5 separate regions of the Homo sapiens genome follow, and regions 2, 3, 4 and 5 are each reported to be linked to region 1. The links are microRNA targets in miRTarBase. Many come from high-throughput screens and were not tested one by one. Region 1 holds a microRNA gene; each other region holds the end of a gene's coding sequence.
What was found. The annotated mature microRNA hsa-miR-6501-3p reads CCAGAGCAGCCUGCGGUAACAGU and lies in region 1 at 1,352-1,374, shown strand. An mRNA with a match to its seed (bases 2 to 7 or 8) in the 3' UTR can be bound and repressed. Matches are read on the target gene's strand: a 7mer-m8 pairs with bases 2 to 8, a 7mer-A1 pairs with bases 2 to 7 and ends in A, and an 8mer does both.

Region 1 (5,105 bases):
TGAGCCACTGTACTTGGCCTGTACTAAGGTGTTTTAACATGGAATGTAAATATGGGTTTATATGATTTAATCTAACTCTACTTTGGGGAATGTCTGACAAAATTAATTTCTATTACTTTTAGACTTGAAAGAGGGCTCCAGAAAAAGTAGATGCGTATCTGTACAAACAGATCCTACTGATGAAATTCCCACTAAAAAGTCAAAGAAGCATAAAAAGCACAAAAACAAAAAGAAGAAAAAGAAGAAAGAAAAGGAAAAAAAATATAAAAGACAGCCAGAAGAATCTGAGTCAAAGACGAAATCTCATGATGATGGGAACATAGATTTAGAATCTGATTCCTTTTTAAAGTTTGATTCTGAACCTTCAGCTGTGGCGCTGGAGCTTCCTACAAGAGCATTTGGCCCATCTGAGACCAATGAATCCCCTGCAGTTGTGCTAGAACCTCCTGTAGTATCAATGGAGGTATCAGAGCCACACATCTTAGAAACTCTGAAGCCAGCTACAAAAACTGCAGAACTGTCAGTTGTATCTACATCAGTAATCTCAGAGCAGTCAGAGCAGTCTGTGGCAGTAATGCCAGAACCATCCATGACAAAGATTCTGGATTCCTTTGCAGCAGCACCAGTGCCTACTACAACACTGGTGTTGAAGTCATCTGAGCCAGTTGTAACAATGTCAGTGGAGTATCAGATGAAGTCTGTGCTGAAATCTGTGGAGAGCACATCTCCAGAGCCATCAAAGATCATGTTGGTAGAGCCCCCAGTAGCAAAAGTGTTAGAGCCTTCAGAAACCCTTGTGGTATCATCAGAGACACCTACTGAGGTGTACCCTGAGCCAAGCACATCAACAACAATGGATTTTCCAGAGTCATCTGCAATTGAAGCGCTAAGATTGCCAGAGCAGCCTGTAGACGTACCATCGGAGATTGCAGATTCATCCATGACAAGACCGCAGGAGTTGCCGGAGCTGCCTAAGACCACAGCGTTGGAGCTGCAGGAGTCGTCGGTGGCCTCAGCGATGGAGTTGCCGGGGCCACCTGCGACCTCCATGCCGGAGTTGCAGGGGCCCCCTGTGACTCCAGTGCTGGAGTTACCTGGGCCCTCTGCTACCCCGGTGCCAGAGTTGCCAGGGCCCCTTTCTACCCCAGTGCCTGAGTTGCCAGGGCCCCCTGCGACAGCAGTGCCTGAGTTGCCAGGGCCCTCTGTGACACCAGTGCCACAGTTGTCGCAGGAATTGCCAGGGCTTCCAGCACCATCCATGGGGTTGGAGCCACCACAGGAGGTACCAGAGCCACCTGTGATGGCACAGGAGTTGCCAGGGCTGCCTTTGGTGACAGCAGCAGTAGAGTTGCCAGAGCAGCCTGCGGTAACAGTAGCAATGGAGTTGACCGAACAACCTGTGACGACGACAGAGTTGGAGCAGCCTGTGGGGATGACAACGGTGGAACATCCTGGGCATCCTGAGGTGACAACGGCAACAGGGTTGCTGGGGCAGCCTGAGGCAACGATGGTGCTGGAGTTGCCAGGACAGCCAGTGGCAACGACAGCGCTGGAGTTGCCGGGGCAGCCTTCGGTGACTGGGGTGCCAGAGTTGCCAGGGCTGCCTTCGGCAACTAGGGCACTGGAGTTGTCGGGGCAGCCTGTGGCAACTGGGGCACTAGAGTTGCCTGGGCCGCTCATGGCAGCTGGGGCACTGGAGTTCTCGGGGCAGTCTGGGGCAGCTGGAGCACTGGAGCTTTTGGGGCAGCCTCTGGCAACAGGGGTGCTGGAGTTGCCAGGGCAGCCTGGGGCGCCAGAGTTGCCTGGGCAGCCTGTGGCAACTGTGGCGCTGGAGATCTCTGTTCAGTCTGTGGTGACAACATCGGAGCTGTCAACGATGACCGTGTCGCAGTCCCTGGAGGTGCCCTCGACGACAGCGCTGGAATCCTATAATACGGTAGCACAGGAGCTGCCTACTACATTAGTGGGGGAGACTTCTGTAACAGTAGGAGTGGATCCCTTGATGGCCCCAGAATCCCATATATTAGCTTCTAACACCATGGAGACCCATATATTAGCATCCAACACCATGGACTCCCAAATGCTAGCGTCCAACACCATGGACTCCCAGATGCTAGCATCCAACACCATGGACTCCCAGATGTTAGCGTCTAGCACCATGGACTCCCAGATGTTAGCAACTAGCTCCATGGACTCCCAGATGTTAGCAACTAGCTCCATGGACTCCCAGATGTTAGCAACTAGCACTATGGACTCCCAGATGTTAGCAACCAGTTCCATGGACTCCCAGATGTTAGCAACCAGCTCCATGGACTCCCAGATGTTAGCAACCAGCTCCATGGACTCCCAGATGTTAGCAACCAGCTCCATGGACTCCCAGATGTTAGCAACCAGCACCATGGATTCTCAGATGTTAGCAACCAGCACCATGGACTCCCAGATGTTAGCAACTAGCTCAATGGATTCCCAGATGTTAGCATCTGGCACTATGGACTCTCAAATGTTAGCTTCTGGCACCATGGATGCTCAGATGTTAGCGTCTGGTACCATGGATGCCCAGATGTTAGCGTCTAGTACCCAAGATTCTGCTATGTTGGGTTCAAAATCTCCTGATCCCTATAGGTTAGCTCAGGATCCTTACAGGTTAGCTCAGGATCCCTATAGGTTGGGCCATGACCCCTATAGATTAGGTCATGATGCTTACAGGTTAGGACAAGACCCTTATAGATTAGGCCATGATCCCTACAGACTAACTCCTGATCCCTATAGGATGTCACCTAGACCCTACAGGATAGCACCCAGGTCCTATAGAATAGCACCCAGGCCATATAGGTTAGCACCTAGACCCCTGATGTTAGCATCTAGACGTTCTATGATGATGTCCTATGCTGCAGAACGTTCCATGATGTCATCTTACGAACGCTCTATGATGTCTTATGAGCGGTCTATGATGTCCCCTATGGCTGAACGCTCTATGATGTCAGCCTACGAGCGCTCTATGATGTCAGCCTACGAGCGCTCTATGATGTCCCCTATGGCTGAGCGCTCTATGATGTCAGCTTATGAACGCTCCATGATGTCAGCTTATGAACGCTCCATGATGTCCCCAATGGCTGATCGATCTATGATGTCCATGGGTGCTGACCGGTCTATGATGTCGTCATACTCTGCTGCTGACCGGTCTATGATGTCATCGTACTCTGCAGCTGACCGATCTATGATGTCATCTTATACTGCTGATCGTTCAATGATGTCTATGGCTGCTGATTCTTACACCGATTCTTACACTGACACATATACAGAGGCATATATGGTGCCACCTTTGCCTCCTGAAGAGCCCCCAACAATGCCACCGTTGCCACCTGAGGAGCCACCAATGACACCACCATTGCCTCCTGAGGAACCACCAGAGGGTCCAGCATTGCCCACTGAGCAGTCAGCATTAACAGCTGAAAATACTTGGCCTACAGAGGTGCCATCATCACCATCTGAAGAGTCTGTATCGCAGCCTGAGCCTCCTGTGAGTCAAAGTGAGATTTCGGAGCCTTCAGCAGTGCCTACTGATTATTCAGTGTCAGCATCAGATCCCTCAGTTTTAGTATCAGAGGCTGCTGTGACTGTTCCAGAACCACCACCAGAGCCAGAATCTTCAATTACGTTAACACCTGTAGAGTCTGCAGTAGTAGCAGAAGAACATGAAGTTGTTCCAGAGAGACCAGTGACTTGTATGGTATCTGAAACTCCCGCCATGTCAGCTGAACCAACTGTGTTAGCATCAGAGCCTCCTGTTATGTCAGAGACAGCAGAAACATTTGATTCCATGAGAGCCTCAGGACATGTTGCCTCAGAAGTATCTACATCCTTGTTGGTTCCAGCAGTAACTACTCCAGTGCTGGCAGAGAGCATTCTGGAGCCGCCAGCCATGGCTGCCCCAGAGTCTTCAGCTATGGCTGTCCTGGAGTCTTCGGCTGTGACCGTCCTGGAGTCTTCGACTGTGACTGTCCTGGAGTCTTCGACTGTAACTGTCCTGGAGCCTTCGGTTGTGACTGTCCCGGAGCCTCCTGTTGTGGCTGAGCCAGACTATGTTACCATTCCTGTGCCAGTTGTTTCTGCGCTGGAGCCTTCTGTGCCTGTTCTGGAACCAGCGGTGTCAGTCCTTCAACCTTCTATGATTGTTTCAGAACCATCTGTTTCTGTCCAGGAATCGACTGTGACAGTTTCAGAGCCTGCTGTCACAGTCTCAGAGCAGACTCAAGTAATACCAACTGAGGTGGCTATAGAGTCCACACCAATGATACTGGAATCTAGTATCATGTCATCACATGTTATGAAAGGAATTAATCTATCCTCTGGTGATCAAAATCTTGCTCCAGAGATTGGCATGCAGGAGATTGCATTGCATTCAGGTGAAGAACCACATGCTGAGGAACACCTGAAAGGTGACTTTTACGAAAGTGAACATGGTATAAATATAGACCTTAATATAAATAATCATTTAATTGCTAAAGAGATGGAACATAATACAGTGTGTGCTGCTGGTACTAGTCCTGTTGGGGAAATTGGTGAAGAGAAAATTTTGCCCACCAGTGAGACTAAACAGCGCACAGTATTGGATACCTACCCTGGTGTTAGTGAAGCTGATGCAGGAGAAACTCTATCTTCTACTGGTCCTTTTGCTCTGGAACCTGATGCAACAGGAACTAGTAAGGGTATTGAATTTACCACAGCATCTACTCTCAGTTTAGTTAATAAATATGATGTTGATTTATCTTTAACTACTCAAGATACTGAACATGACATGGTAATTTCCACCAGTCCTAGTGGTGGTAGTGAAGCTGACATTGAAGGGCCTTTGCCTGCTAAAGATATTCATCTTGATTTACCATCTAATAATAACCTTGTTAGTAAGGATACAGAAGAACCATTACCTGTAAAAGAGAGTGACCAGACATTAGCAGCTCTGCTCAGCCCTAAAGAAAGTAGTGGAGGAGAAAAAGAAGTACCTCCCCCTCCTAAAGAGACACTGCCTGATTCAGGATTTTCTGCCAATATTGAGGATATTAATGAAGCAGATTTAGTGAGACCGTTACTTCCTAAGGACATGG
Region 2 (5,105 bases), not on the chromosome of region 1:
TTTGAATCATTGAAAACCATTCAAGTAGAAACAAGAAGTTCCTGAAACATCATAGACTCAAGACCAAGTTGTCTTTTTCAGTAGTCTTTTCAAACCAATGTAGATGGCCAAGAGATGATTGGGAAACAAAGCCGACTTGAAATTAAAGGACTGTAAACTACTGTACCATGTTCTTTTTTTGTGTGTCAGCTAACTCCATAAAACAGGAAAAAGACTTGGCATTTTTGGATGGAATGATTTTAAAAATAAAAGATGAATACTAAGTCATGACCAAAAAACAAACAAAACTGCTAGCATCCTGTCACATTCCCATAGCCAAAGCATTTTAAGCAGTCAAAAGATATTTTTCTAAAAACATGAACTGTCTGCTTCCTTATCATGAGTACATCTTTTTCTATCATAGCCTTAGTGAAATTAACCAAGACAGGAAGGTTAACTTAATCTAAATGTCAGAGTCAGTGTGAATCTATTAAGTGGCACACACACAACTCCCACCGTTGAGCTTCTGTTTAGTAGTCAGACTCAGGAACTAAATGCTACTGTAAAAGAAACATGCTAAGCCCAAGAGGTCAAGGCTGAAATGAGCTGTGTTCGCACCACTACACTCCAGCTTAAGAGCGAGACCCTGTCTCAAATGTAAAAATAAAAAATAAACATGTTAATACTTCCAAAATACTTTAAAAATAATTCTTGGAAAGTTTCAAAGCCCTTTGTCCTTTAGTCTATAAATATGAATTCTTTATTACACAAGGGAGAAGAGCAGAAGCTCTAGAGCCACAGACCCAGCTCCAAGATATGGTTCATATCTATTCCAGCTGTGTTATTACTCTTTCTCGATTTGTTTTTCTGTAAACTGGGGACGACAGTACTTGGTTCACAAAGTTTTAAGAAGGGATTAGATGAAATAAGGAATTAGATGAAATAGAGGTTAACTTAGCAAGATACTTAGTTTTAGTATAAGATAGGGTTGTTTTTTGTTTGTTTTTGCCTGGAGTGTGTGTACATAATAGATACATTTAAAAATCTATGAAACCACCATATTTACCATGACATCACATTATGGTAAAGTGGTAAAGAGTACAAATGAGAATGTGTGATTAAAATAAAATCCTACACAGATTAGACCCTTTAAATAAATGGCACACATTTAATACATGGAATACTGTTTTAGGGAGAATGGAGGGATGTTTCTGAATATAAGCAGTGGGAAAATACCTTAGTCCAACATAGATGCTTTCACCTAGGTTAGTCATTAGTAAATCAGGTTACACACTCCAGATATCCATGTCACAGTGTCAGTGTGTATTTGGACTAAAAAGACACATCCTTGATTACAGATAGAAGTACAATGAGGCTTACCCCTTGTCTTCATCCATCTGTACTGCCATGATGAAATGTTTTGGACTAATTTTTAAACAATACAATTTTATTTCTCATTGTTCTGGGAGGTCCAAGATCAAGGCACCAGCAGATTCTGGTGAGGTCTCAGTATCTGCTTCAAAGATGCTACCTTCTAGCTGTGTCCTCCTCACATGGCGGAAGAAGCAAGGAAACTACCCCAGGCATTTTTTTTTTTTTTTTTTTTTGCAACCTTGCTCTGTCACCCAGGCTGGAGTGCAGTGGTGCGATCTCGGCTCACTGCAACCTCCGCCTCCTGGGTTGGAGCCATTCTCCTGCCTCAGCCTCCCAAGTAGCTGAGATTACAGGCGTCCGCCACCACGCCCAGCTAATTTTTTGTATTTTTAGTAGAGATGGCATTTCACTGTGTTAGCCAGGACGGTCTCGATCTCCTGACCTCGTGATCCGCCTGCCACGGCATCCCAAAATGCTGGGATTTCAGGCGTTGAGTCACTGTGCCTGGCACCCAGGCCTTTTTTATAAGGGCACTAATCCCATTCAGAGAAAGCAAAGCCCTCATGACCTAATCACCTACCAAAGGCCCCACCTCTTAGTACTATTACCTTGGGTGTTACAACATGTGAATTTGGAGGAACACAGATTTAGATCATACCACCCCTAAATTTAACCTGTGGCAGAAAAATTTTAATTTCTATATTTGAGTTTCTAACGTGTAGTCATATTATCAAAGACATTTAAAGTGCCAATAGCTCTGAATGTATCCATTAGCTTTAACATATCAGAAAAATGATTGGAAAATATGTAACATAAAACAAAATTCTGCTTTAAATTAGCTCTTTCTGGCTTTTTTTTTTTTTTTTTTTTTTTTTTGAGACAGAGTTTTGCTCCTGTTGCCCAGACTGGAGCGCAGTGGCATTATCTCGGCTCACCGCAACCTCCGCCTCCTGGGTTCAAGCGATTCTCCTGTCTCAGCCTCCCAAGTAACTAGGATTACAGTCATGTGCCACCATGCCTGGCTAATTTTGTATTTTTAGTAGATGGGGGTTTCTCCGTGTTGGTCAGGCTGGTCTCGAACTTCCGACCTCAGGTGATCGGCCCGCCTCCGCCTCCCAAAGTGCTTGGATTATAGGCATGAGCCACAGCGCCGGCCTCTGGCTATTACTTCTATAAGTGGAGGACATGATTCTTCAAATTACAAATGTGAATTGTCACTTTTATGGTTTCATTGAATCCTCAGTCTATTATAACAAGGGTCGGCAAACTTTTTTGTAAAAGACCAGATAGTAAATATTTTAGATGTTGTAGGTAATATGTAAACAAATGAGTGTAACTGTGTTCAAGTAACTTTATTTAGAAACAATGAAATGTGACTTTAATATAATTTTCCTGTGTTATGCAATAATCTATGGATTTTTAAAAACCTTCTACAACTGTAAATTCCATTTTTTGCTCACAGGCCTTTCAAGGGAGATTTTTAAAAAAGATTAAAATGCATAAAACTGAATTTTATGATTGGCCAGGTGTGGTGGCTCAGCACTTTTGGAGGCTGAGGCAGGAGGATCACTTGGGCCTGGGAATTCAGTACCAGCCTGGGCAACATAATGAGACGCTGTCTCTGCAAAAACTAAAAAATCAGCCTGACATGGTGCATGCCTGTAGTCCCAGATCTGTGGGAGACTGAGTGGGGAGGATGGCTTGAGCCCAGCCCACCCGAGGCTGCAGTGGGCCATAACTGTACCACTGCACTCCAGCCTGGGAAATAGCCGCAGACCAGATTTGGTCCATGAACCATAGTTTTTCAATGTATTATAAAATCAATTAAGAAATGGTAGTTTTTTGTAATCCCAGCACTTTGGGAAGCCAAGGAAGGAGAATCACCTGAGGTCAGGAGTTCGAGACCAACCTGGCCAACATGGCGAAACCCTGTCTCTATTAGTAAAGTACAAAGATTAGCTGGGTGTGGTGGCAGGTGCCTGTAATCCCAGCTACTCAGGAGGCTGAGGCAGGAGAATTGCTTGAACCTGAGAGGCAGAGGTTGCAGTGAGCAGAGATCGCGCCACTGCACTCCAGCCTAGGCGACAAGATTGAGACTCCGTCTCAAAAAAAAAAAAAAGTAGTTTTTCCTGGTCTTTATAGGCTAATTCAATATACGAGACAAAGAATCATCATCGACATCAAGGAACACAGTGCTTATGACATTCTTTATTCAATTCACATAGAAAAGCATGCAGTATTAATGTAAAACAGTACAATATTAATGTAAAATGTTCAGTGCACATTAAACAGCATACATACCCATTTTTAAAGACCTATATAGGCATACCAAATACGTTTAGAACAATACACTTTTTCAGAGCCTAAATTAAAAATTGTGCTTACCTCTTACCTATCTTCACCCCCTCAACACTCTTCACAGAAAAGTTTTGTCCTACATAAAAGATATTCTATCAGCCAACTGAAACCTCTTTTTCTTAAGTATGGAAAACACAGCAAGCAAAAATGCTACCATGCATAGTTTCCACAAAGAACAGGAACATGCAAACAAGAAACATACTACTCAAAAGAAAACTCCCCTGGAATGCAAGTGGATCAAGAACTTGGCGATGAGCTCTTTCAAACCTGTTACATCTGGAACAATGAAGCTATGATGTTTTAGGTTCCTCTAAACCCAAGTGCTCCATGCCTTCTTTCCATAGTATGCTAAATTTCTGATTTTACACACATACACACACACGCAGAGGAGAAAATGTAAGCTACCTAACATAAAACAAATGTCTTCATATAGAAAATGTTTTCTTTCATACTAGCAGAACATTTTCACAAAACTGGACAAAACACAATGCTAAAAAATGCAAACATATACATAAAACCTAAAAAAAGAAAGTAAATCAATATTGGACTAAGGCTAGAGTGCTATTTCTCCATCATGGCCCTGCAGAAAAACTAGGCCATCACTAAACATAAATAAAAAGGGACAGGTAAAATAATTTCCACCCTGGGAAAAGCTTAAACTCAAGTGTCTTATTGAGCAGTGTATAGACAACACTAAAAGTTTTATTTAAGAAATCCAAGTTCTGAAGACAAGTGGGGCTTATCAACAGGCCACTGTATCTAACAGTTAAATAACATTTTTTAAAAAAACAATGTATATCCAACCGAGATACATATCAAATTCAGTAAAAAAACAAAACCAAAAACAAAACCAACCAACCAACCAACCCCAAAACACAAAAATAACCTCCTCCCTAACTTCTCTGGTCACAAAGACTCCCAAATAAAAATGAAAAGAACAAAGTCTTTTCAAAATGAACAATAAGTATTCTGGGTACAGGTTAATCCACCATCCTGACTTGATACTTGACTAAAGATTATCAATTCCAATTTGTATAGAACTTTTATGAGGAAAAAAGGTAACTTTAACAACTTTTCTATTTCTCTCAGGACAAAACCACAAATGACACCTTTCTAATGAGTCAACTTTTAGTTGCTTTTGATGGGCTGGCACTGGAAAGGCTGCTCTGGATTTTTCTTTTTGTTGATTGATTCACATTTTTATTCCTCTTTTCAGGCACAAAGGAAGTAGACCAAGGAGACTGAAGGTGGTTATGAAGACTGTGCATCTCTGAGGACATCTTAAACAAAGATGACCCAAATCTTTGATCTTCAAATAGTCGATGTGAACTGCTTAACAAAATGCCCTGGGAAAACTCTGTCTGAAACAAGCAGCTTGGGGGTTTGATTTCATT
Region 3 (5,105 bases), not on the chromosome of region 1:
GTAGCCTCAACATCCCAGGCTCATGTGATCCTCCCAGCTCAACCTCCTGAGTACCTGGGACCACAGATGCACACGACCATGCCTGGCTAATTTTTCAATTTTTGTAGAAATGGGGTCTCACTGGCTGGGCGCAGTGGCTCACGCCCGTAATCTCAGCACTTCTTTGGGAGGCCGAGGCGAGCAGATCACGAGATCAGGAGATTGAGACCATCCTGGCTAATGTGGTGAAACCCCATCTCTACTTTAAAAAAAAAAAAAAAAAAAAGCCAGGTGTGGTGGCAGACACCTGCCTCAGGAGGCTGAGGCAGAATGGTGTGAACCTGGGAGGCAGAGCTTGCAGTGAGCCGAGATCGTGCCACTACACTGCAGCCTGGGCAACAAAGTGAGACTCTATCATCTCTTCTATCATCTCAAAAAAAAAAAAAAAAAAAACAAAAATGGGGTCTCACTATGTTGCGCAAGTTGGCCTTGAACTTCTGAGCTCAAACAATCCTCCTGCCTTTGGCCTCCTAAAGTGCTGGGATTTCAGGCATGAACCACTGTGCCCCGCCCTAAAAAAAATTCACTTCAACTATCTAAGCACTGGAAAATACTCTTTGCAGTGTATTTTCTTACCAAGTCGGCTGGTGGTGGTTTTCCTCATTGAATTTCAAGGCTGAGGTGCAGATGGCTTGCCCAAGAGTCCAGTTTCAAGTTTTCTGGTACATTTTATTGATGCAACTTTTAAATAATCTCCCCACTACCAATGACAAAGTTATCCTTAATTCCTCCCAATCTGTTTCCTGCATCAATCATGACATAACTCAGGATGGAGAAATCTCCCTTTAAACACCAGATGGGAGCATGCTTTAAACTGCTGCCTGGAAAGACTGAAGGACAGTACCACCAAAGCACACACCCTGTTCGAGAACCCTTCCGTTTCCTTGCCTATTTCCTCCTGTTGCCTGCCAGCCTTCTGCTCCAGATAAAGGGGCAGTATGACCATGGCAATAGCTCCTGAGGGTATCCTGGCTGGCCTGGCTCTTCCACAGTAGTCACTCTTGGTATCTTCTCCACCACCTGCAGGTGGTCCTTCTCTACAATAATCTAATCTGAAGGGTACCGCCGACTACCCACCTGGGAGAAATTAGTTATAAAAAATAAGGGTGTTGGGTTGGGGAGGGATTCTCCAAAGCTACTCAGGCATCTGAGTGGTTCCAACATTTCCCTTTTCCTCTTGTCCTGAAGAAAGTCTGGGCAGGTTCCACGTGGGCATCCTAGAGGCCTTCTGCCCCAGGGGTCTGTTGCACAAAACCAGGTCATTGTAGGTCACATGCATCAAATGATGGCTACCAAAGAAAAACACGTCTTTAGGGAAAGTATGCAACCAGCTTCTCAGCTTGGGAAAGATCATTGTTAATACCACCATAATCCATAATTTTAAAAAATATATTAACATTTTTTCTTACCTGGCAAAAAAATTCTACAAACTTCTTCTATAATTTGTATAAAGTACTCCAGGGTTCAATCTCATTCTTGCTACCCTCGATGCAGCAGTGCAAATGAACAGTTTGAAAAAGACATACACATGAGCAAAGTACTGTTAAAAGATTTATTGCAGTAATACAATAAAAGTTTAGAAAACATTTGTATGACTCAAACTGGTTTGGAAGTTGCAGAGCAATGGGGAATTCCTGCAACATGATACTGTGAGGAGATTCTCGGACACTAGTCCTCTAACAGCATGCCACTGAATGCTCTTCCCCAAATTGAGTCCTTACATGAGTCCCGTCCACTCTACCCAATGGTGATATACTGTTTTTCCCCCTTACAGATGTGCAAAACTTTTCTTATATTCCATAACCAAAAAATGTCTTTAACAGACCATTTTAAGCAGCCTGTTTGGTGCCTGTGGGTTTTTATTAGTATTACTTTGTTTCAGTAAATCATTTTAAAATGGAAAACATGACCAAGTTCTATGGCTTTTTGTTTAAACAAAATACCAGCTTCAATTTTTTAAAAAGCTGTTTACATATGGTTCTGGCACCTACATGAAAGATTTTAATGAGCAGCAAAAAGAGTAGAAAAAACAGTGGTTGAAATGTATACTTAAGAGTATTTACAGGGTGGATCCAGTGCAAAATAATGAAACCCAAAATATTTCAGCAGTGTAAGCCAGTATGTTGGTGTTCAAAACCACAAAAGGGTTCGATCACTTAACCCTATGTAAAGTGCCTCTAGTTGATATTAACAACAACAAACAAAATATATCCTATCCATAAAGTTCCCACATCTTTGTAAATTTTGTGGAAGTACTCTAGATGAGTTTGTGATCTCTGGATTCTATTCTTTAGCTTCATCTCTCATTCATGGTTTCATAAGAGGCTTAAGAAAACCATGACTGTTGTGCATCTCTCAGCTGAAGTCAGTCTCCACCACCAAGCTCCAAATCCCACTCTTACAACTCGTGAGACTAAGCTCTTACTTCTGAGGGTTTTAAGTAGCTAGACAACTCTTACAAGATCGTTAAGTTTATTTATCTGTTCAAGTCTACCATCTTCACTCTCTACGAACTCCAGAACTGGATGGGAAAATGGAAGCCCAGCAATCAATCATGAAGCTGAGCACTTAAAACAGAGATCCCAGCAGTGTAGAAGAACCCATAAGGGGCCGGGCGCGGTGGCTCAGGCCTGTAATCCTAGCACTTTAGGAGGCCAAGGCAAGCGGATCACCTGAAGTCAGGAGTTCAAGACCAGCCTGGCCAACATGGTGAAAACCCCCGTCTTTACTAAAATACAAAAATTAGCTGGGCATGATGGCAGGTGCCTATAATCCCAGCTACTCGGGAGGTTGAGATGGAAGAATTGCTTGAACCCAGGAGATGGTGGTTGCAGTGAGCGGAGATGGTGCCACTACACTCCAGCCTGGGCAGCTGAGTGAGACTCCGTCTCCAAAAAAAAAAAAGACCACCCACAACGAGAAAAGCCTACTTCCTCCTTTCATGGAAAATTCATAGAGCCAAGGAATTTGTGACTACCGGATAGAAATAAACTCCGTTCTGCAACTCTACCCAAAACTATACAAAACACCAAATATACCATTAGCAAAAGCTATATAGCACCTCGGACTTGGAGGCAAAGTATCAACTACAATTATTATGATGAGAAAAGAAGCTGGGGCATGGCAAACCTCTGAATGATTTATCAGAGGTGCTATCATGCCAATCACATAAGATATGGTAATAATGCCTGTTAGGACTCTTTCATAGGATTTCTTTTGGTAGTTGTTACATAGGATTTTTTTGCAGTTATTAAAAATAAACTACTTACATATTTGTACATAATGCCTCTCTCATTATAGTTTTCTTGTAAGATTGTCACTAAAAGAATGACAAGACACGTGAGCTGAAAATGATCTCCTGCTGAGGGAAATTCTTTTTTTTTTTGAGACGGAGTTTCGCTCTTGTTGCCCAGGCTGGAGTGCAATGGCACAATCTCGGCTCACTGCAACCTCTGCCTCCCGGTTCAAGCGATTCTCCTGCCGCAGCCTCCCGAGTAGCTGGGATTACAGGCGTGCGCCACCACACCCGGTAATTTTTTGTATTTTTAGTAGAAACAGGGTTTCACCATGTTAGCCAGGCTGCTCTCAAACTCCTGACCTCAAGTGATCCGCCTGCCTCGGCCTCCTAAAGTGCTGGGATTACAGGCGTGAGCCACTGCGCCTGGCTGGGAAATTCTTTCTTTATATTGTGCTTTCCCCAGAACAGAGCAGAGTAGCATCAGCCGTAAGGATCTGCGCTGCATTTCTGAGCAAAGCTGTGTCCTCAGAGCAACAAAGAGTTCGGGGAAACAAGTAGGATGGTTTCCCCTGAAAACACCTGCCACCTACTCAATCCCATAGAAAGAAAGTGGACACCACAAGAATGACCAGAGGCCACTTAACTAAGTGGCTTTTCCCCTGTGCCCAGGCAGGCATTGAGCTTACATAAGGGAATGACCTTCATGACTTATTTTCACCCAGAAAATATAAGTTCAATTTCAAAATGCTCATAGTGTGGATGGCAGGAATTCAACTAGGTAAGAATAAGCTTAATTCCCCTCAGAATACAAGAAAATAGTTAAAAACTCTCTAGACATTATTGCAGCCAGGATTTCTTCCATTTATGGATGTGGGTCCTAAAGAAAAAGACTTTCATTTTCTTTGGTGTGTGGGGGAAAGAAAAACAGGAATGTCTGACAAACTACGACAGAGCAGCATGAATAAAATACGTGTAACTCACCCCTCCCAAACAAAATCAAAGGACCAAATTAGAAATTTTAAATTGCCTGCTGGTTCTCATACAAAAAACAATGGCAGAAAAACTCTTATTAAAGAGCTTTTATCTTTCATGTCCTAATAATCAAGAATCACCTCTTGTGATTCAACCAACCTCTAAAACTTAAAGTGTCAGGAACAGTCTCAGCACCGCAAGGACCAGCACACTGACCCATATCTGTGGGCCCGGTGGCCCGGGCCCAGAGGGAACCCAAATCAACTGCTTCCTTGGCAGAACTGGCCACACGCACAGGTCCTCCTTCCACCAGCACTGGTCTGGGTAGAAAGACCTTCGACCCCTGTTCTCTTAATTATCATAAGCATGTTGGTCACCATCACAGGCCACTTGGCAAATAGAAATGTTTGTCTCCCTGCTTAAAAAGACAAAACAAAACAACACTTTAACCTCTTTGTTCCAGACACTATCTTAACTTAAACAGAAAATGTTTACTAGAGTGTAGTGGGAGAAGAACTTTCTTGATGCAGATTTGGTATGTTTTGGTCCATGCTCGTTAACGGTGTCCAGTGTAAGCTTTAAACCAGGAGGTCACCGAGGCTGCTGCAGAGGAGATCATCCCACCTGCACTGCTGCTCGCGATGGGTGGGGACGCCTGGGTGCTCTGACTCTGGGAGACTTCCACAGACTGGGAAGGGATATCACAAAACCGGGGACTAGGCAAGTTCTCCCAGTCTGTGCCCAGGTCGGTTTCTTCATCGCTGACGCGCTCATCTCCGCTCTCATCTGATTCTCCAGCAACTCCGGGATCCACAAATTCCATGGACTCCTCAAGGTCTGCTCGTACTTCAAAGGG
Region 4 (5,105 bases), not on the chromosome of region 1:
TCTCCGCCTCCCGGGTTCAAGCGATTCCCCTGCCTCAGCCTCCCCAGTAGCAGCTGGGACTACAGGCGCGCACCACCACACCTGGCTAATTTTTTGTATTTTGGTAGAGACAGAGTTTCACCCTGTTGGCCAGGATGATCTCAATCTCCTGACCTCGTGATCCGCCTGCCTCGGCCTCCCAAAGTGCTGGGATTACAGGCGTGAGCCACCATGCCCGGCTCTCCAGTCATTTTTAAAGGTGAGCCCTTATTATTGTTAAACTATTAAATGGGTATTTTAATGACAACGGACCAAAAATGCATGACGTTAAAAGCAATCCCTGAAACTTGCAACTCTGCGTTGCAAGAACAAGCCTATCATTAAGGTTACTGTTTTAGGAGACAAGATTCTCATGTTTGCTGATCATAGAGCTCATAATTACACCTCAGTGACAATTCCAAAATCAAAATATTTTTTAATATACCGGTTACAAAAGCATCAAGGAAAAAACTTTTTTCGGCTGGGTGCAGTGGCTCACACTTGTAATCCCAGAACTTTGGGATGCCGAGGCGGGCAGTCATGGATCACCTGAGGTCAGGAGTTCGAGACCAGCCTGGCCAACATGGAGAAACCCCATCTCTACTAAAAATACAAAAATTAGCCGGGCATGGTGGCGGGCGCCTGTAATCCCAGCTGCTCGGGCGAGTGAGGCAGGAGATTCGCTTCAACCCAGGAGGCAGAGGTTGCAGTGAGCCAAGATTGCGCCACTGCACTCCAGCCTGGGTGACAGAGCGAGACTGTCTCAAAAATAGAAAAAAAAAAAACTTTTTCCAAGAACAGAGTGGAAAAAGCTCATCGTCTTCTGCACATACCATACTCAATTTCCATTCCAGGACTAAATGAACTCCTCATCCAGGAACCCCCAAGGCCTGCCTGAGGCCATTTCGTTCAACAATGCATATCCACGCTGTGGCCACCTGGCACCACCAGCTTCTCAAGGGCAATGAAGTGCTTGTACATACACCACCTCACAGCGAGTCACATAGATCAAAACTCTGCCCCACACCTCCTCCTCGGCAGGGGTGAAACGGCGTCACTCAGGACCGCAGTGTCCTCTGCAATGAAGGCTCAGTGCCCACCTGCTGCACCAAGACTTTCGTTGCACTTGAAGGCTTTTTCCGAAAGTGTGGACCCTGCACCACCTGAATTCAAATCAGTTGGGGTTGCAGGGGAGGAAGGAGCTTCTCAAAAAGGCAGCCCTGGGCCATGGCCCTGAACCTGAGAAAATCCTTGTGTAAGCCTGAGAACGTTTTATGGGTGTTCTCTGGGTTCTAGCTATGGTGGCAGCTAACTCACTCCGCTGGTCAGCACAGCCTTTACAGACTGTTTTAGCTGGGCCCAAAATAGCCTGGGGGAAAAAAAAGAATGTGTATTCTCAAATCCATCCCAAAGACAAGAAAATGGCTGGATGAGAAATTCAGTTTCCTGTTCCTAGAGATAAGCACTATGATTGCACCGTTTAACAGGCAGTCCTCACCTCCTTCCTGTAGGTGGAGGGCTACCTCCTTGCAGGGATGGCAAATCCCCACACCAAGCCTCTCTTCTACCCTCTTCTCCCTCAAAGAGAATCAACCCCACAGTTTATTCCACTAAATACAGGCCCATCACCACGACTCAGCGAACAACCTGGGCAGGTGCCAACCCAGGCTCTCCTTCAGGGACCTGGCCCATCTCTCACCGCCGTGGTGCCCCTACCCTGCAGCTTCTGACTCGTCACCCCAGTATTCTGTCCAAGGGTTACTGGGGAGATGGTCTGTCCCCTGGAACTGCCAGATCTGTAACTGTCCCACATCCTAGGTCCCCCTCTCCTGTGGGAGGTCTTGGTTTACAATACTTGACAAGTTTAAGGGTCTGAGTCCCATGTACAAATGGAAAGTGAAATCAGGTGTCAACACCAAATTCCAGGCTCCCCTGACATCAATGACTTCAACAGCCGGACCATTATTCCCCATCACCAGGGTCCTTATCACCCTCCAGGAAATCAAGTGTCCCCTAAAAAGGCTGAGCTCTAGATAGCCCCAGATATCAACTGTCTTAAGACACTTGGTATTATCCAACTTCCTCACTTTCCCCGTGTTTCTGACCACCTCTGTGCTACACACCATTCATGAGCAAAGTTAGGACCCACGTATTTCAACACCTGGCTGCTCCTGAAAATGTATGAGGACAACAGTCCTCAAAACCCAAACACTTCACCACTGGAAGTGCCATGGGAAAAGGGGGATCAGAGGCTTTTTGGAGGGAAAACATGAAGCCTTTAGAAGTGACTAGTTCGTAGCACTTAGTGACATCAACAAACCTCATTTCCTCAGCTGTACCAGCACACTCGAGGGAAGGGCGTGAAGGTGTTGTGTAACTGGCATTGGCTGAGACGAGACCAACCTCCTGTTTCCGGACTCTTATGAACTTAAATCACGGCTTGAAACTCTCCACGACCCCAGTCAGCCCCTGTGCCTCAACTATTTTCGATCAGGCAAGTGAGGTGTGAGTCAAAACAAAGGAAACTGGTCTACAGTGTGCTTTGGGCGCAGCTGGTGTCATGGTTGTGATGGAATTCAAGTTGACACTACCTATTCCCCATCAGAAAACGGCATTTGCTGGCAAAGTTGATCCCCAGACTCTGGATCTGGAGAAATTCTACACAGAGTTCAGTGACAGCCAACCCCTGAATCTCACTGCGGCAAAACAGCACAACTAAGGGAAGAAAAGTGGAAATAAAGGACATCTTTTCTTCTAAGCCTAATAAAGACCAACGTAACTGTTGGTACAGCAACTAATTCGTGAGGACAAAGCTTTTCTTCACATGCCAGTCCTTAAAAAAAACAAAGCCTCGTACAGTAAGAGTAGCCAGGTGTTAGCCACTTTAATAGAAAATATGATCAAAACTCGATTACAAGAGTTCAAAAAGACATAGAAAACCAGTGAGTTTCAATTTTATTACAAGTTTTCAAATCTGGGACTAGTTTCTTTTTTTCTTTTAACTGAAATGCCAACTTCAGCCCAGGGTTTTTTCACAACCAAACTAAAAATGACTTACTACATGGGAACATCAATGCAACAAGTAGAATTTGTAAACTCAAGCCACAAACTTAGTTAATAATCATGGTTAAGGGACATTGCCAAAGAGCAACTGATGCCTCAGTGAAGTTTGAAAGAAACTCTGCTTTCTGTGACGGCAGAGAAGAAATATGCAAGCAATTCTGCTTCAAAGAAATTTGCATAGAAATGGAAAAATGCCAGAGCCTTTAACACAAGTGAAATTGCAAAGCCTCAACACGTTCAACTCAATCCACAGAGCACCAAATGTTTAATGGGAGCCAAGGTAGGACTGAGCATTGAACTTCCAGCTATGCAACTCGCAGGGCACAATTTCAAGTGTGGAAACCATCTGTAGGCAAGCTCTTTTAAAAACATGAATTTTAGACACCGTAAATTCTAATGCAGACACTTTTGCATTACTGTTTGAATTTCAGAAGGGCACCACAAGGCACCAGAGTCTTTCAAAGTCACTCACAGCAACAATTGCATTTTTTTCCCAGCCTTGGTAGCCCCTTTCAGTTGTCTAGCCTCTGCACTGTGGCACACCACTGACATTAAATCCAGTCATGGCCTAAGTGGCATGAGGCAGCTATTTCCAGGGCACCTCCCACCTCCTTGGCATGGGAGGCTTCCCAGTCACTCCTCCTTCGTGTCCCCTCTTTCAAGAACCTCCAGAGCTCTTGGCATCAGGGGCCCCCATTGCTGGGCCCCACACGGGAGACCACATCTGGAAGCACTATTCCTACAGCTCCCTCTGCTGGAGACGAAAGTGACAGTTTGTTGCAAAGACCTGTAGAAACATTACTTACACGTTCATTTCTGTACACATTTAGTTAATTTAGAACCTGGGACTTTTACAATCGATTCCCCAAACCCCTTTATGGCAGCAACACTGAAGGAGCACAGTTTCTCTCTCTAGGAAGAAGAGGATTAGCAGACATAATTGTGTGCGTCAAGAGAAATTTGTAATCAAAAAATGAAAGTAAGACGAATGGCCCAGAAACCCGCATTTTATTGACAGTCATTTTCCCACAGAGAATCTTAGAAAGATGTCGCGTTTTCTTTTAATGAATGAGAGAAGCCCATTTGTATCCCTGAATCATTGAGAAAAGCAACAGATACAACTGACAGTCACACTTTTTAAAATCAAACAGTCACTACCTTCAGCCCACACCTCCACACCCGCATCTGCCTCCCCAATGGCTGTCAGTTCGGTAAAGTCACCCTCTCCTTCTACTCTGGTATTACCACGAGAATTGAAATTTTTAAGCAGAAAAAAAAAGAAGTCAAGTTACAAATAAATGAGTGGCGAACCAAGGGAAGCCCTTTGACTATGATTTCCAATTTTCTGTTCAATCCACACTGCAGAGATACAAGGATAAACCACCATTTTGGTTCCCAAGTTTTATTCAAGAACTCATACAAAATTTTCCAGATAAATGAAATTTAATCCTCGTCTTCCTCCTCTTCTTCGTCCTGGTTAATCTGGAAGTAACGTAATTCGTAACTCTCTTTGCTGTTAGCAACTACGCGCAACCAGTCACGTAGATTATTCTTCTTCAAATATTTTTTGGTGAGATATTTCAAATACCTGCAGAGAAAGGACACAAGAACTCCACTAGACAGTTGGTGCTTGCATTCTAAAACATTTTAACATTTATAAAACCCAGCACTCAAAATCATTACAATTCAAGGTGTTTTCCCAAGCCTCAAAAATGGCAAAGGTAAGGCAAATACACCCAGCCAAGGCTCTGAGTTATCAGCCACGTACCATCGACATCGGCAGTAACAATTAGAATAGCCTCAGCATGGTGGCTCAGGCCTGTAATCCCAGCGCTTTGGGAGGCCAAGGCAGGCAGATCACTTGAGGTCAGGAGTTCGAGACCAGCCTGAACAACATGGTGAAACCCCATCTCTACTAAAAATAAAAAAATTAGCTGGGCGTGGTGGTGCACGCCTGTAATCCCAGCTACTCGGGAGGCTGAGGCATGAGGATCCCTTGAATCCAGGAGGCGGAGGGTGTAGTG
Region 5 (5,105 bases), not on the chromosome of region 1:
GTATCCACAGGCACCTTCTCCATCCTTCCTGCTCCTCTGGAAAGGGTGCTGTGACTCCACACTTTCTCCTGTGTGACTCGGGGCAAGTCATCTTCCCTCTCTGAGTCTCAGTTTTCTTAGCTGTAAAGTAGAGGTGATCATCCTTCCCCCCTGGAGTTGGTATGCAGTCTGGCACATTTTAAGAAAGTTCCCAGCTCGTGGTAGGCCCTAAGCAAATGTCTCTCCAGAGGATGACACACAAACAGGCTGTGTTCTGGACCCAGACAATCCTCCCCTCCACCCTTTCACTGCATGCGGCGAACTCCTACACATCCTTTGATGCCCAGTTTAGATGCCCCTCCTCCAGGAAGCATTCCTGACTTAGATCACGTCCAGTTAATCTTTTGGGAACTCTGGTGCATCAGAGATGGGCAAACTCTGAGTTTATCCTGCCTCACTTTCCTATTTCCCAGTGGGGAAACTGAGGCCCAACAGGGAGGTCTTCCCTTGGCTGAGATCTCACAGATGAATCAGGGGTAACAGCAAGAAGATTCAAAACAACATCTCTAGATCCTCTGGGACCAGCTTTAGCCATGGAAAGAGGGCGTGGACGGTGCCTGTCTTGTATGCCTCTGCCACTTTGGCCCCCATTATGGTGTCCCTCAGAGACGAGTGTGCCACTAATGTCCTCTCTTCCTTCTCTCTCCACAGCCCACGACCTCCCTGCAAACAAGGCCTCAGCATCCCAGCCTGGCAGCCACTTGCAGTGCCTGTCTGTCCACTGCACAGACGACGTGGGTGACGCCAAGGCTCGAGCCTCCGTGCCCACCTGGCGGTCCCTGCATTCTGACATCTCCAACAGATTTGGGACATTCGTGGCTGCCCTAACTTGAATGACAAGAAAGATCCCCTCCTCTACCAGGCCCTTCCTCTCCCCCTGTCTGTTTCCTTCCCCCTCAACCTTACCCCACCCCTCTGTTAATTTGAAAGGGCCACTATTGCTGAGTGGATGAGTTTTTTTTTTTTCTCTAGGTTGGTACCTGCTTAGTGGCATATGGACCGGAAAGGGTTAATTTAAAGGGGGGGAACCTCAAAAGTTTTTTTAAAAAAGAAACTTGTCTGCCACAGTATGTTACCAGTGTTAACCCTTCTGCAGTTAGCAAACTTTTGCTTAAGCCTTTTTCCTCTAGATACTCCCCATGTTTCGGTAATCTTGGCATACATTTTTTAGATGACCTCTTTCCTTGTTTTGTTTTCATGCTGCTGTATGTCCAAGTATTGTTATTTCATAATAAGACAAGAGTTGCTTTCTTTTTTATTCTTTTTCCTTTTCTTACCCCCTCCCCTTTTATTTTCTTTTTGCTTTGTTCACTGCTTATTAAAATGGAAATCCTGGAGAATAGTAGTTCTGGAATATTGCCGGGTGAAAGTCCAATTGTCATCACAATGTTATATATTGACACCCCAGTGTCATCAGTCAGGCAGGAGCCAAACAATGAATGCCCCTCTTAGGTATTCCGCCTGGGATTTTGTTTTGTCTGTTCCCTAAGAAAATATATTTTCATTCCTGCAAACACAGTGCTCAGCCTTCAGTTCCCTTCCACTTGAGTTCTCTCTTCTCCTGCTGGAAGCCGCCCCTCTCTGCGATGGACGTGAGGACGTGTCCAGCTCTGCTCTGTGGGAAGGAGTTGGAATGTTCGACAGCAGTGTTTTCTCTCCTTTTCTGGGCCTCCTCGCAAATGCCCAGGCCCTGCATTTTCACGCTGTGCTAAGCAGCCTTTGGTCTGCATGGGGGATGGTGTGCTCCCAGCCTGCAGTCTTTGGAGCAAGGCTGCTGCCCGTGCCTTGGGTGCTGGAGTTGGAGGAGGCTGTTCTCAGCCCTTTCCCTTTTCTGAAAGCTGTTCCTGGCCGGGCATCCCAGGGAAGAAGGAGGGGACTGCGTGTATCTCCTCCACCTCTCCCATTCCATCCCCAGTCCAGCCTGGGCAACCCCACCCCTGGGAGGGATGAGGCACCCTCTTGCTCAGCCTGCTCAGCCTTCTCTGAGCCTTTGCAGGGATCTGCAGACTCCTGAGGGCTAGAGGACAGAGAAAGAGAATAGAATGAAATGACTTTGATTCCTGCGCCTTTTAGTTTTGAACTCTGGAATTCCTCTGCCCCCTCCCCAACATTTTTTTGGAATCTCACCCTGTTGCAAAACTAGAGCCATGTCCCAAGCATCTCACAAAGGAATAACTGCTCTGAGCAGAGATGAGTGGTGGTTGGCAGGGGCAGGCAACTTTGGGTGCTGCTGATGCCTGCAAAAGCCATTTATGGCTTGTGGTGGGGGGCACATAGATTCCCCGGTGGGTTAGACAGGAAGTAACTGATATCACTTCACCCAAATATATAACCGTGATGGTTATCTATTTAATTTCAGTTTTTGTTAACGAGCGTGTCTTACTAAAACGCTCCACTTTGAGCTCCCCCACCCCCTCCAGGTCCTCAGAGTTTGCAGATCTGGGCTTTCTAAAGCAAGTGACCTGAAGGCTCTGGGCTCACCATACAACACCCACGTTGTTTATTTCAAAGAACTTTTCAGCGAAGGGAGAGGAGCTTTCAGAAAAACCTCACTCTTTCCCCTCCCTTCTCCCCTCTTTCCTTCTGCCGGTCCTTTTGGCTGGGGTCTGAGTCTGCGGTTCTCGCCTGGGCAGTCTTGACGAGGAGCAAACCCCGCCTTCAGAGGGCAGACAAAGCAGGTGGCATGAATTGATCAGCGAGAAAGGTGTGAGCCGAGGCAGTTCCTGCGTTCTGCTACAAAAGGAATGGAAAGGGAAGGGAATTTCCCCCCACCATGGGCTGTGGGAGAGTTGACCGTATTCTGGGCAAGACTCCATGACCCCTCTGATTCTGCAGTGTACAGCTGTTTGAGAGCCTCATCATTTTACTTTTGAAACAGGAATGATTTCTCCTTAATTGCTTAAGGCCGGGGAGCAAAGTGTCTTAACTTCTGTCTTTGACTTTCCCAGCGTTGAGTCATCAACACTTTGCCAATTAGCTCATGGTCCTGGCAACCTCAGAAACCCCTGAAGTTTTAAAAACTTTCTCGCTCCCCACGACCCCAGAATGAAACAGCTTTAAAAATAGCCTTAAGCAAAAGGATGTTATTTCATTAAATTTGGTTTAATGGAAAGAATAAAAGTAAATGAAAAACACACCCTACACACTAGACTCCGAACACTGGTAATCAGTACTGCATAGCAAACTCTTTGGGAAAGAAAACGAAAATGTTATTGCACATGTAAAATATGAAAACTTAACTCTGCTGTGTGTTAGGCAATCCTGTAATCTTTTTTGACTCTTAAAAGAAATTCATTTCTGAAATGCTTGGTTGGAAGACTGTGACAATAGCTCATGAAATTGAGTGTTATTTTTTTCTTTCTTTTTTAAAAAAATATGTAAAGTGCAGTCTTCTGTATTCCTGCATATTGTATATACCTGTATATGTTTTCCTGAGCAGTTAAATAACAATAAATATGACGTTAATGGTGACTGTGGTATATTTGTGGGTGGGGCTCGCTTTCTTTGTTTCCTCCCAACTCTATCCCCTTTTTACATCAGTCTCTTCAGATTCTATGGGACGTAGGGGTGTAGGTTTGGATGCTGTAGTGGGTGTGTCTGTGTGTGTGTGTCTGTGTGTGTGTTGATGTTCTAAGTTGGGTCATTTCAGTATTTCTCAACCTTGGCACTATTGACATTTTGGGCCTGTTAATTCTTTGCTGGAGTGTAAGGGGGGCAACTAGGCATTTGAGGAGGTTGAACGGCATTCCTGGCCTCCACCCACTAGATGCCAAAAAAAAAAAAAAAAAAAAACCTATCTAAACATTGCCCAATGTCTCCTTGGGGGAAAGATCCTTTGGGGGCCAAGAACCCTGTATCTGACTCATGTAGGAGGGAGGGGGCAACGGAAGTGCCCCCCCCAGTGGCTGTGTAGGGTGATGCTTATGCTTCTGGGTTCTAGTGTTCAGTTTCAGATCCTAGTAAGCCTGGGAATCTCCTGCAAGTTATGCAGCTTCTCAGCTCCACCTTTTCCTCATCTTTGAAAGGGGTCTAGCTCGTGGGGTTGTTATCGGAGACAATGCACTGGACACAACATGTAGGAAGGGCTTCATGTGCATAAAGCGTCAGCATCAGCACCATAATCTTACCACAGGGCAGCCGATGGCGGTCTGGAGTCACGCTGTCCTGGGGCGCATGCTGCTTCCTCCCCTTACAGCCATGGACCTTGGGCAAGCGGCTTAACTACAGCCCCCAGTTTTTTTGTTTCTTAAGTGGAGCAAGTAACATCTAGCTGGAAGCTCACTGTGAGCACCAGCCCTGTAAAAGGATCGGTTTGCCTATGGGCCACTCTTTGGGCAGTGGCTTCACTCCGGCATCTGCAGCCTCAGACCTGAGGCCACTGCAGACCATTCCTGTCCTTCCCTTTTGCACCTTTACCTCTCAGTGTTTCTCAAAGCATGGTCCACAGAACCCTGGCCGCAGAAACACCTAAGGGCTCTTGTTAACTCCAGATTTCTGGCCTTGTGCTAGACTACTGAATCAGAACCTCTGAACTTGTATTTTACACCTAATTATAACAGGTGCAGTTACCTTCTTTCACAGCCCACAGCAGATCAGAGGGCTAATGTAGGTGGGCGCCCAATGCCAGGTTGGAGCGGGAAGATGAGTCAGAAATGATGGCGGCAGATTGAGAGCTGCAGCGCGGCCATTCAGTGTGGAGGCAAACAGCTTACACGTGTCTCCAATGACTCTACCCTGGAAAACATCACACTAAGGCAGAGTGTGAACAGAAGCTCCCCAGACTGGCATTAAGCTGGTAAAACGTTTAATTACATCCAGGAAATTCCCCATCTCAGGAGCAAAGAACACATTTAGGAAGATTACCTGCCATAGTTACTTTGTCACTGGGGCTGGAATCCTGAGTGGAAAAACCTCTGCAGTCACTGGGTCTCCGGGAGGTAGGCAGTGCACTCTCTCTGAGCCTCAGTTTTCTTGGCTGTAGAGTGGACAGAAAGAGTGTTATGACCCCACAGAGCTGTCTATGGGAAGACTCCTGAGCACAGTGCCAGGCACAGAGGGGAAACAGG

Region 2: the mRNA of OBI1 is a reported target of hsa-miR-6501-3p. Seed matches in the 3' UTR shown: 7mer-A1 at 3,710-3,716.
Region 3: the mRNA of ATG14 is a reported target of hsa-miR-6501-3p. Seed matches in the 3' UTR shown: 7mer-m8 at 4,226-4,232, 8mer at 3,803-3,810, 7mer-m8 at 3,743-3,749 and 7mer-m8 at 1,656-1,662.
Region 4: the mRNA of RPL22 is a reported target of hsa-miR-6501-3p. Seed matches in the 3' UTR shown: 7mer-m8 at 3,332-3,338.
Region 5: miRTarBase lists MN1 as a target of hsa-miR-6501-3p. Seed matches in the 3' UTR shown: 7mer-m8 at 1,651-1,657 and 8mer at 2,216-2,223.

What each region holds. Positions count from the first base shown.
Region 1 is chr21:33,549,354-33,554,458 of GRCh38, forward strand. MIR6501 (microRNA 6501) reads left to right here and starts at 1,309; the gene lies at 1,309-1,375. It overlaps SON (SON DNA and RNA binding protein), which reads left to right. Exons shown (of 12, transcript NM_138927.4): 3 at 123-5,105.
Region 2 is chr13:78,610,748-78,615,852 of GRCh38, forward strand. It overlaps OBI1 (ORC ubiquitin ligase 1), which reads right to left. Exons shown (of 6, transcript NM_024546.4): 6 at 3,542-5,105. The coding sequence ends at 4,833. It overlaps OBI1-AS1 (OBI1 antisense RNA 1), which reads left to right. Exons shown (of 6, transcript NR_047001.1): 6 at 4,928-5,105. Among named protein-coding and RNA genes, the nearest start is that of POU4F1, 9.7 kb to the left of the region's middle.
Region 3 is chr14:55,364,814-55,369,918 of GRCh38, forward strand. It overlaps ATG14 (autophagy related 14), which reads right to left. Exons shown (of 10, transcript NM_014924.5): 10 at 1,578-5,105. The coding sequence ends at 4,806. It also overlaps a transcript of FBXO34 not described here. Among named protein-coding and RNA genes, the nearest start is that of ATG14, 44 kb to the right of the region's middle.
Region 4 is chr1:6,182,148-6,187,252 of GRCh38, forward strand. It overlaps RPL22 (ribosomal protein L22), which reads right to left. Exons shown (of 4, transcript NM_000983.4): 4 at 2,873-4,669. The coding sequence ends at 4,525. Among named protein-coding and RNA genes, the nearest start is that of CHD5, 4.4 kb to the left of the region's middle.
Region 5 is chr22:27,746,682-27,751,786 of GRCh38, reverse strand. It overlaps MN1 (MN1 proto-oncogene, transcriptional regulator), which reads left to right. Exons shown (of 2, transcript NM_002430.3): 2 at 691-3,510. The coding sequence ends at 872. Among named protein-coding and RNA genes, the nearest start is that of CPMER, 34 kb to the right of the region's middle. RefSeq lists enhancers at 1,464-2,334, 4,351-4,851.